Regions from separate parts of the Homo sapiens genome. Here region 1 is linked to region 2. Evidence: fine-mapped expression QTL. A gene starts in region 2. The other region holds a variant in brackets. All regions are shown on one strand. Distances are between the middles of the regions.

Region 1 (4,386 bases), 55 kb after region 2:
TCTATGGTAGTCTTGTGGTGTGACAAGTATCTAGCCCTGCTTGGGCCAGCGGCCAGCTCTGTGCCTTGCGGCCGTTCATTTTTCCTGTTCCTGGACTCTGTCTGCACCTCTGCAAAGTGGGATTGTTGGACCAGGTCAGTTCTAGACTCCTTCCAGCTCTGAAATGTGACTCAGCTCTGCCCCAGCGCTTCCTCTTTGTTAGATTCGGGGCAGAAACAGCAGGATCTTTCATCATCTTGGGCCCCTAGGTCAGAGAGGACCTTTCTTCTGCTGTCTTTTTGACAGCTAGAGTCACACAAGAGGTTCAGGATTCAAGTGGCCTGAACGTGATGGCTGAACTTGAGGCCGGAGCTTTAGACATGTTGAAAGTCTCCTGCCTCTACTCCCAGGTACCCATCGTGGTACTCTTTGTTTCTTGAATTGCCATCGTCCCCCTTATGTCTTAAGGTCCGAGAGAGGAGGGGCCGTGCTTTCCTCCCCTGATCTGTCCCTGGTGCCAAGCACAATGCTGAGCACGGATTAGACACTAAGTTAATGCTTCCTGGATGGACGAAGGATGGATGGTGGCTGGATGGAAGGAAGACAGTCAGGTGGATGGACAAACGCCTCCATGGCTCTAAAACCAGTTCATTTTTGAGATCTGACAGAATTTGTGCCAATTTAGCTAGAGAGTTCACTTGTCCTTTATATTCTTATTCATTGTGAGTAGAATTTTCAAGGGACTTCTGATTGACTCGTTTTTTCTGTATCCTAGGGTATTATCTCTTTAAAAAAAGAAAGAACAAAAGGCCAGAACAGAGCTGTTCACCTGGATGTGATTACGCATCCGACAGAAATGATAGGGGCCTGCAGGGATATGATACACTTGTCACTGACCAAAGAGACTCAGTCATCTGGCTCAGTCTCTCCCCAGATAAGTAACTTTCAGATGTGTCCTGTGGTCCTTGGCAAACTGTCAGGAAATCAAGTGTAGAGCTGATTGATGAATTTCCTTTTTCCTAAACACACACATATACACACACACATACACGCACACACACTGTCTCTCCTCAAACCCTCAGGAAATTTGGCTTCATCCTCTGAGAGAGTCTGTGCTGTTGGAATGCCTGCCTGTGTCTTGGCATCACCTCTGTGCTGGGACGTGTGTTTGCCATTTACATCCTTCACTCGTGAGGACCATGATGAAATGTGAAACTGGCTGGGACCCAGTTCCCGTTCACCCAGGCTGCACTGAGTAGGCGCCAGCTGCGTGCAGAGCAGTCGCCTCGCAGGAGACAGGGCGTGTGAGCCCTGTGGCAAAGCCCCTCTCTCTTTTAGTCTTAGAGTATGCTCTGTGATGAACAGTTACAGCTTCAAGGAAGGAAATCACACTCAAATTCCTCATAAGGGTTAGTGTTCCCACCCTCCTCCTTTCTCCTGACGCTTTGGAAGGAAATCATCTAGTACCAGCTCCAGGCTCCTGGTCTGCTAGACCAGTTCTCGGCTCCTCCCGGCTCTGAAATGTGGCTCAGCTCTGCCCCAGCTCTTTCTCTTTGTTAGATCCTGGGCAGAAATGTCAAGGCCTTTCATCATCTTGGGCCCCCAGTTCAGAGAGAACTCCATCTATTATTACTAGAACCATCTACTGTATAGAACATATATTGGAATACTATACAGGAAAACCATTTTCAAAACCACCTATAATTTCCCACCTAGATAACTGCTGTTTATGTTTTGGCGTGTTTTTCTGACAGACTGCATTCTCAGTGGGCCCTTAAAATGCCACAGAGCTGTGCACTGTGAGCAAAGTTAAATACTGTGAAACTGGGGGCCCAGGTGCTAGGGAAGGTTTCATTTTTGCTCCCCTTGGAAAGAGGAGCTCAGGGGTGGGGGCACTCAGTGTTGCATGGATCGCCTGGACTTCCAGACAGAAGTTTTTGGGGTGGAGGTGGGGTGTGGCTGTGGCAGGGGGGGGCATCCAACCTTCTCTCTTTGGAGTCCCAGATGCCCGCAAAGGCTGACAGCTTGGCCTCTCCCGCTGCTTAAGAGGAAGGCATCGGGGCCAGGTGTGGCCTCTGGCACCTAGAGCCACTCCGTGGGAGCCTGAATCACACCCCTGCTCACTTGGAGTGTTTTCTGTTTCCAGGGGAGGCCAGTGCCTCCACGATGTGGGATAATAATGCCTGGACGTTCTTCTACGACAACAGCACGGATGGCGAGCCACCGTTTCTGACGCAGGACTTCATCCACGCCTTTCAGCCAAATGCCAGACTGATTGTCATGCTCAGGGACCCTGTGGAGAGGTGAGCAGTTTCTGTGTGTTGTATTTGGGGTGAGAAGAGGAACTTTTGAAGAACAGTGTTCCCCTCTCATGACAAATAAGATTTTGTCTCCTTTAGAAAAAATTAAACAGGTCGGGTACAGTGGCTCATGCCTGTAATCCCAGCACTTTGGGAGGCCGGGGTGGGTGGATCGCCTGAGGTCAGGAGTTCAAGACCAGCCTGGCCAACATGGTGAAACCCCATCTCTACTAAAAATACAAAAATTACCAGATGTGGTGGCACACTCCTATAGTCCCAGCTACTCGGGAGGCTGAGGCAGGAGAATCGCTTGAATCCAGGAGGCGGAGGCTGCAGTGGGCCAAGATGGTGCAACTGCACTCCAGCCTGGGTGTCAGAGTGAGACTCCATCTCAAAAAAA[A/G]AAATAAAATAAAATAAAAACAAACAAAAATAAACGGAACTTGCAACGTTACTGCTGTTTCTTACGTAAGTGTTATTCTTGAGGCTGTCCCCACTGAGTTGACACATGTTGCAGATGGTTTTCTTAACCATTCTGATCCTGGTCTGTGTGACTTCAGCCCCAGCAGGCCTGACCAGGGGCACAGGACGGTTCCTTGGTACTGTCAAGGCGAGGGAAACACCCTTAGAATCAGGGGTGTAAGCTTCTCCACGTGGTTTAACTCCTAGAATTCTGTGTCTCTCCACGTGGTTGATGCCTTTATCCTTGTCTGCGTTGAATGTACAGTTTCCAGCTTTCCTTGAGAGACCAAAAGGAAGAACAATGCTGAGCAGAGCAGCTTTGCTTTAAGATCAAGGGTTTCCCAGTGTGGGTGAGGCCAGGGTAGTGGGATATTGAACAGCCACTATGGGGCGGCCTGGCTGGCACTGGGCACTGCTTGCATCATTTATGCCTGTGTGAATGCAGAATCTCAGGGCTGCCAGGACCTGAAAATTATTTGGTCCAGTGCTCCCTCCAATACTTCCACATCAGAGCTAAGGGGGCACCTGTCTAATCCGAGGCCCTCTGAGTCAGGGAATTCTCCGCGCAAGATGGCCAGTGTAGCTTAGGACAGCTGTGTTCCTATTTTGAGACCAGGTCTGTTTTGGGGAAACATCCACTCATTGGTCCTCTTTCTTCTCCATAGAGTCAGACAGACCAAGTCTAATCCTTCCAAAACAGGAGAGGCTGGCGATATTTAAAGACAGGGACCACAGCCCTTTGTGTCTTATTTTCCTTTGGGCCAACTACATCTTCTTATGGATTGAATTGTGCCCCCCAAAAAGATAAGCTGAAGTTGTCTCCCCCAGTGTGTATGACTGTGACCTTATTTGGAAATAGGATCTTTCTTTGCAGATGCACTCCGGTTAAAATGAGGTCATACTGGATCAGGGTAGACCCTCACCCACCCTAAGACACAGGGAGCATGCCTCTTGACGAGGCTGGAGTGATGCTGCCACCAGCCAAGGGGTGCCAAGGAGTGCCGGCAGCCACCAGAAGCCAGGAGAGGAGTGGAACAGATTCTCCCCTGGCATCCCAGAGGAACCACCTCTGCCCCACACCTGGGTTTCAGACTCCAGCTTCCAGGACACTGAGGGAAGAAAGTCCTGTCATTACGCACCACGAGTTCGTGGTGATTTGTCCTGGCAGCCCCGGGAAACTGACCCCTGGGACCCCTTCTTCAGGTGGCATACCTTCCTGGCCCCACGTATTTGCCAATTATAACAATAAGGCGTGTTTGTTGTGGAAATTTTGGAACATATATTGGAAAACTGTTTTCAAACTATTAATTTCTCACCTAGATAACTACTATTTATGTTTTGGTGTATTTTCTTCCAGACTTTTCTATGCAAATAAGTGTGTGTGTGTGTGTGTGTGCACATGGGTGTGACAGGACAGTCTTATGTCCTGCTTCTTTCACTTTGCATTGTTGCCCCCCAGAAACATGCTTTAAAGTCTGCTCTGGTCACACTTCTGAGCTGATGTCCCTCTTGTGGAGTCTGCATGGCTCCCGCTGCTCTGAGTATGACCTGGTCAGGGAGAGGCTGGATCTGCCCTCCCTCAGCCCCAGCGCTCTGAGCCTGAGCTCTTGGTGGCTGTCCCGGTGCCATGCCTTCTAGCAGGTGCCAG
Region 2 (4,386 bases):
GGTTGCTCAGCTAGTGGGTGGCAGAAGTAGAATTTGAACCCAGGCAATTTAAATCCACAGTTGTGGGGGCCTAGAGTGCACACACGGGAAGCGGGGATTTATTTTCTGAAAGTATCTGCATTTTTTTTTCTTTTTTCTTTTTTTGAGAGGGTGTCTCACTCTGTCACCCAGGCTGGGGTGCAGTGGTGTGATCTCGGCTCACGGCAACCTCTGCCTCCCGGGAATCTACGGGCTTGCGCCACCACGCCTAGCTAATTTTTGTATTTTTAGTGGAGACGGGGTTTCACCATGTTGGCCAGGCTTGTCTCGAACTCCTGACCTTAAGTGATCCACCCGCCTCGGCCTCCCAAAGTGTTGTGATTACAGGCGTGAGCTACCGTGCTTGGCCGGTATCTGCATTTTTTTCAGCCGTGACTTGCTAATACCATGTTGGTATCAACCTCTCTTGCAGTTACACATTTATTTGTCTATCCTTCCACCCATCCACAGGGACCTGGCATTTGGGTGTTCTTTCAATTCTCTGCAGTAACAGGCTCAAGTGCAATTCTTGGGTAATTTTTTGAAATTAAGGTTGAAAGGAAAAAAATCACCTTCTAGTTAATCTCAGGCACGTGTATAAATACCTTTGGAAAGTCCCTGGTGGAATTCATATCAAAGCGGCACCGTGATTTTTACTTAAAAACAATTTTGCTCCATGTCAACCGTGGTTTCTGACACCTGAATTTGAAAGTGATCTGGGTGGGCCCAGCGCCATCTCCATAACGGAGTTATGTGTTTACTTGGAGGGAGGAGAGGAAAGGCATTATTCCCTGGCAGTATGTGTGGCCCTGGAATAATGTTCCACACACCCTTACAGAAGGGGATTTCCTCCTTGCTGTTTCCACAGACCCTTCCCTGTGTTTGTTTAAACCCGTTGCACACTGGTCTGACAGCTGCCTGGCCCAGGGCCTTCCTTGCAGACGCATGTACAACCAACCCTCTTTAACAGCAACCTGCTCTGTGTCCCCTGATGCAATTACTCGAGTATATAAACCTCACTGAAAGGCAGGCTTTTCTTGGGAGCTAATAAATAAGCCCCAAAGCCACAACGTGTGTGAGACCTTGAAAAATGGCATCATCATCTATTGGGAATTGTGAACCCTGCAAAAAGCAGCTCGTTGTATTTTCAGAAATAGGTTTTTGTTTAAAAAAAAAATAAAGAACAAAAATCACTAAGTGGAGTCTATATGGAAAAAGCAATCTAGTCTGAGATTCTAAGGCAAGTCTCTTTGCTGCATTCATCTTTCTTCGCAGATTTTATGTAAGAGGCATTATTTGCAGGAAAACAAGACAGGATTTTAAAGAACTCCCCTCTCATCCCGGTTTCCCATCTGCAGTTATAATCCTCTGATGGTGACCTCTGCATTAGTTGCCATGGGTGCTGAGCAGAAGTTTATGACCTCAGGGTGGACTGTAGCTTCAGGGGGGCGAGATGAAGCCTCCGGCAATAAAGAGATAATGGGGAGAAGCCACTGTCAGGAATGACCCTTCGGTGGCATGTAGTCTACAGTTAACGGAGCACTTTCATTTCCACTTCTGGTTGCTTCGAGGAAGAGGGTGCTGGACTCTGGCCACGGGGACACAGGCCGGCAAGAGACTGCAGATTCTTTTTGTCCCTTGGACCTCAGTTTCCTGAGAGGCTGGGCTTGGTGCTCCAAGCGCCCTCTGAGCGAATCTGCCAGAATTTCATGTGTCTTTTCTTTAACTGATGGCATCTTCAGCCCAGAGTCAGTGGAGTCGGCCACTGGTGCCGCTTTCTTGCCCTCGGGCTGTCCAGGTGGTTCCCTGGGGCAGCCGACTCCAGGCCACTGCGGCAGGCCGTGGCGATCGGGGTCCTGCAGAGCTTTACCTCCCCCGCGGAAGCAAAACACGCCGGGCCAAAGAGCCGGGCCAGCCTTCCCGGGATGCAAAAATACAACAGAGGGCGCCGAACTCACCAGCGCTGTGGCCTTGAATATTAATGTACGGGCTGGCTCCAGACCGCCAAGTTCCTTAAAGATGTCTCTGGCGGCCGGGCGCGGTGGCTTACGCCTGTAATCCCAGCACTTTGGGTTGGGGGGGCGGACGGATCATCTGAGGTCGGGAGTTCGAGACCAGCCTGACCAACATGGAGAAACCCCGTCTGTACTAAAAATATAAAATTAGCCTATTTTGCGTGGTGGCGCATGCCTGTAATCCCGGCTACTCGGGAGGCTGAGGCAGGAGACTCTCTTGAACCCGGGAGGCTGAGGCAGGAGACTCTCTTGAACCCGGGAGGCGGAAGTTGCAGTGAGCCGAGATCGCGCCATTGCATTCCAGCCTGGGCAACAAGAGCGAAACTCTGTCTTTAAAAAAAAGAAGTATCTGGCAAGGTGTCACTGCCAGATTTCAGGGGTTTCGATGTGCTTTTATTTGGAATCACCGCAACACACAAGCAGTGTTGACTCGGAGGGGGAGGGGGCAGGGGCCAAACCCACCGCTCGGCGCACACGCCTTGATCTCACATTCCAGACTGGAGCTGATGTGTGTCAGCGCGACATGGGGCGGGGGGAGGGTTCTCCTCGGATGTTTCATTCGCCGTCTGCACGTCACTCCCAAACTTTTCCTCCCAGCGCTCGGGGAGTCAGGTTGACGCGCCCTGGATGCGGGGCTAGAGGCTCGGGGCTGGGCGCGCTCCCGCGGAGCCGGAGCCGCAGAGGCTCCCGGGCTGGACTCAGGCTTCTCAGGTACAAGTTAGGTGCCAGACGCCGAGGTGGGGTCGGCGAGGAGCGGCGGTAGGAGGTCTGGCCCTGGGCTCGGGGCTCCGGCGCCCCTCCGCGGGTTCGGGCCAGGCAGCGCCGGCGGCGGCCGGGGCTGGGCGTAGGGAGTCCGGGCCGGCGGAGGCGGCGCGCAGCCTCACTCCCCGCGGCGCTCCCGGCGCGGTGGTGGCGGTGGCGGTGGCGGCGGCGGCCCAGGCAGACAATGAACTTGCGAGCTCGACGAGCCGAGGCAGGTTTGGGCCCCGGGCTCCTTGGCCCGGCCTCCCCGAGGCTTCAGCGATCCCCAGCGGGAGGAGTCCCTTCGCCATTGGTCCTGGCCGCGCTCCGGGCGCCCTGCGCGCTTGAGGACCCCGCGGGAAGGGTTACCCAGCGGCGACACACGCCCCCTCCCTCGCAGAGAGGACGCGGCCGGAGCGAGGGGACAGGGGACCGAGCAGTGGCGTGGTGGCGCCGTGGATAGCCGGAGGCCGGCGGGGGGCGCAAGCCGCGTGGAACGCACCGGCGGGCTGTCCGGGAGAAGGAGCCCAGTAGTCGGAATCGGGGCGCCCCTGCACCGCCCAGCTCTGGGAGCCGCAGGCGGGGGACCGACCGACGGACAGACCAGTGCTTTCACGGTGTGAGCGCGCGTCGTTTGGCGGTAGGGGACGGGGATTCCCCCCAGCCTTGCGCTCCGCCCCCACACCCCTATCGCACTTTGGGGAAGTTTCCAGGCGCGGCCCGGGGCAGGTAAGTGGGCATCCGCCACTCTCTCCCCGGTTGCGAGCTCGGATGCGCTTCCAGAACCCTGGCTCTAGCCTTGCGGCGGTTCCGGGCGGGGAGGCCAGAGCTCTCCCGCGCCTAAGCCCGTGGGACCCGGTTCAGGGAAGGGGGATGGCGGGGGCGGGCCTGGGAAGAGATAGGGGAGCGGCTGAGCCCCGAGCGGTGTGAACTTTTGCTCCCCGCCCCCTCCTCCTTCCTCCTCCCCGCCCCGCCCCCACTGCTGTCCCCTCCCTGCGCCCCGCCGCGTCTCGGGAGGCGGCGTGACTCGGGAGTTGCCGGCGCTTCCCGGCGGTGGCGGCGTCTCTGGCCGGCCTTGGTGCGGCGAGCCGAGCGAGGCAGCTCTGAGCCGCGCGGTGAGGCCAGAGGCGGGGAGCCGGGGCTGCGGGGCGGCGAAGCTGGGGAGCCGGATGGCAGCGGCCGGGGCGCGGAGGCGACGCTGGCGGTGGAGATGTAATGCGAGTCTGTTGGGTTGTGTGTGCCGGGAGATAGGACGCGGTGGCTGTGGGTGGCTGGGTGGCGGGCTGTGGCGCAATTGGCCCCCTGGGATGGCAGGATAGAGGCGCCGGGGCGAAGGGAACCTTGCCTTTGGGAAAATGAATGAAGAGCCGTGGAAGCACCTTCCCGACTCCTCCAGGCAACCGATGGGCCGGCGTGCGCGCGAGTGTGTGCGTGTTGAGGCTTCGGAGCCGCCCGGGTCCTGGGCACAGCTGCTTGACCTCCCCGTCGCTGTCCGGGTGCCCACGTTCCCGCCCGCCCTGCGCCCGGGGCCGGCCGGCGCGGCTGGGACGGCGGGTATAGAGGAGGAAGGCTGGGGCTGGGTTGCCGGCTGCTGGCGGCTGGAGGTCCGCGC

The links.
Region 1: its variant is fine-mapped to the expression of CHST15 in whole blood (TOPMed, PIP above 0.99).

What each region holds. Positions count from the first base shown.
Region 1 is chr10:124,036,411-124,040,796 of GRCh38, reverse strand. CHST15 (carbohydrate sulfotransferase 15) reads left to right here. Exons shown (of 8, transcript NM_001270764.2): 5 at 2,126-2,282. Among named protein-coding and RNA genes, the nearest start is that of CHST15, 55 kb to the left of the region's middle. The variant A/G (reference allele first, on the strand shown) is at 2,680.
Region 2 is chr10:124,091,827-124,096,212 of GRCh38, reverse strand. It overlaps CHST15 (carbohydrate sulfotransferase 15), which reads left to right and starts at 2,615. Exons shown (of 8, transcript NM_001270764.2): 1 at 2,615-2,744.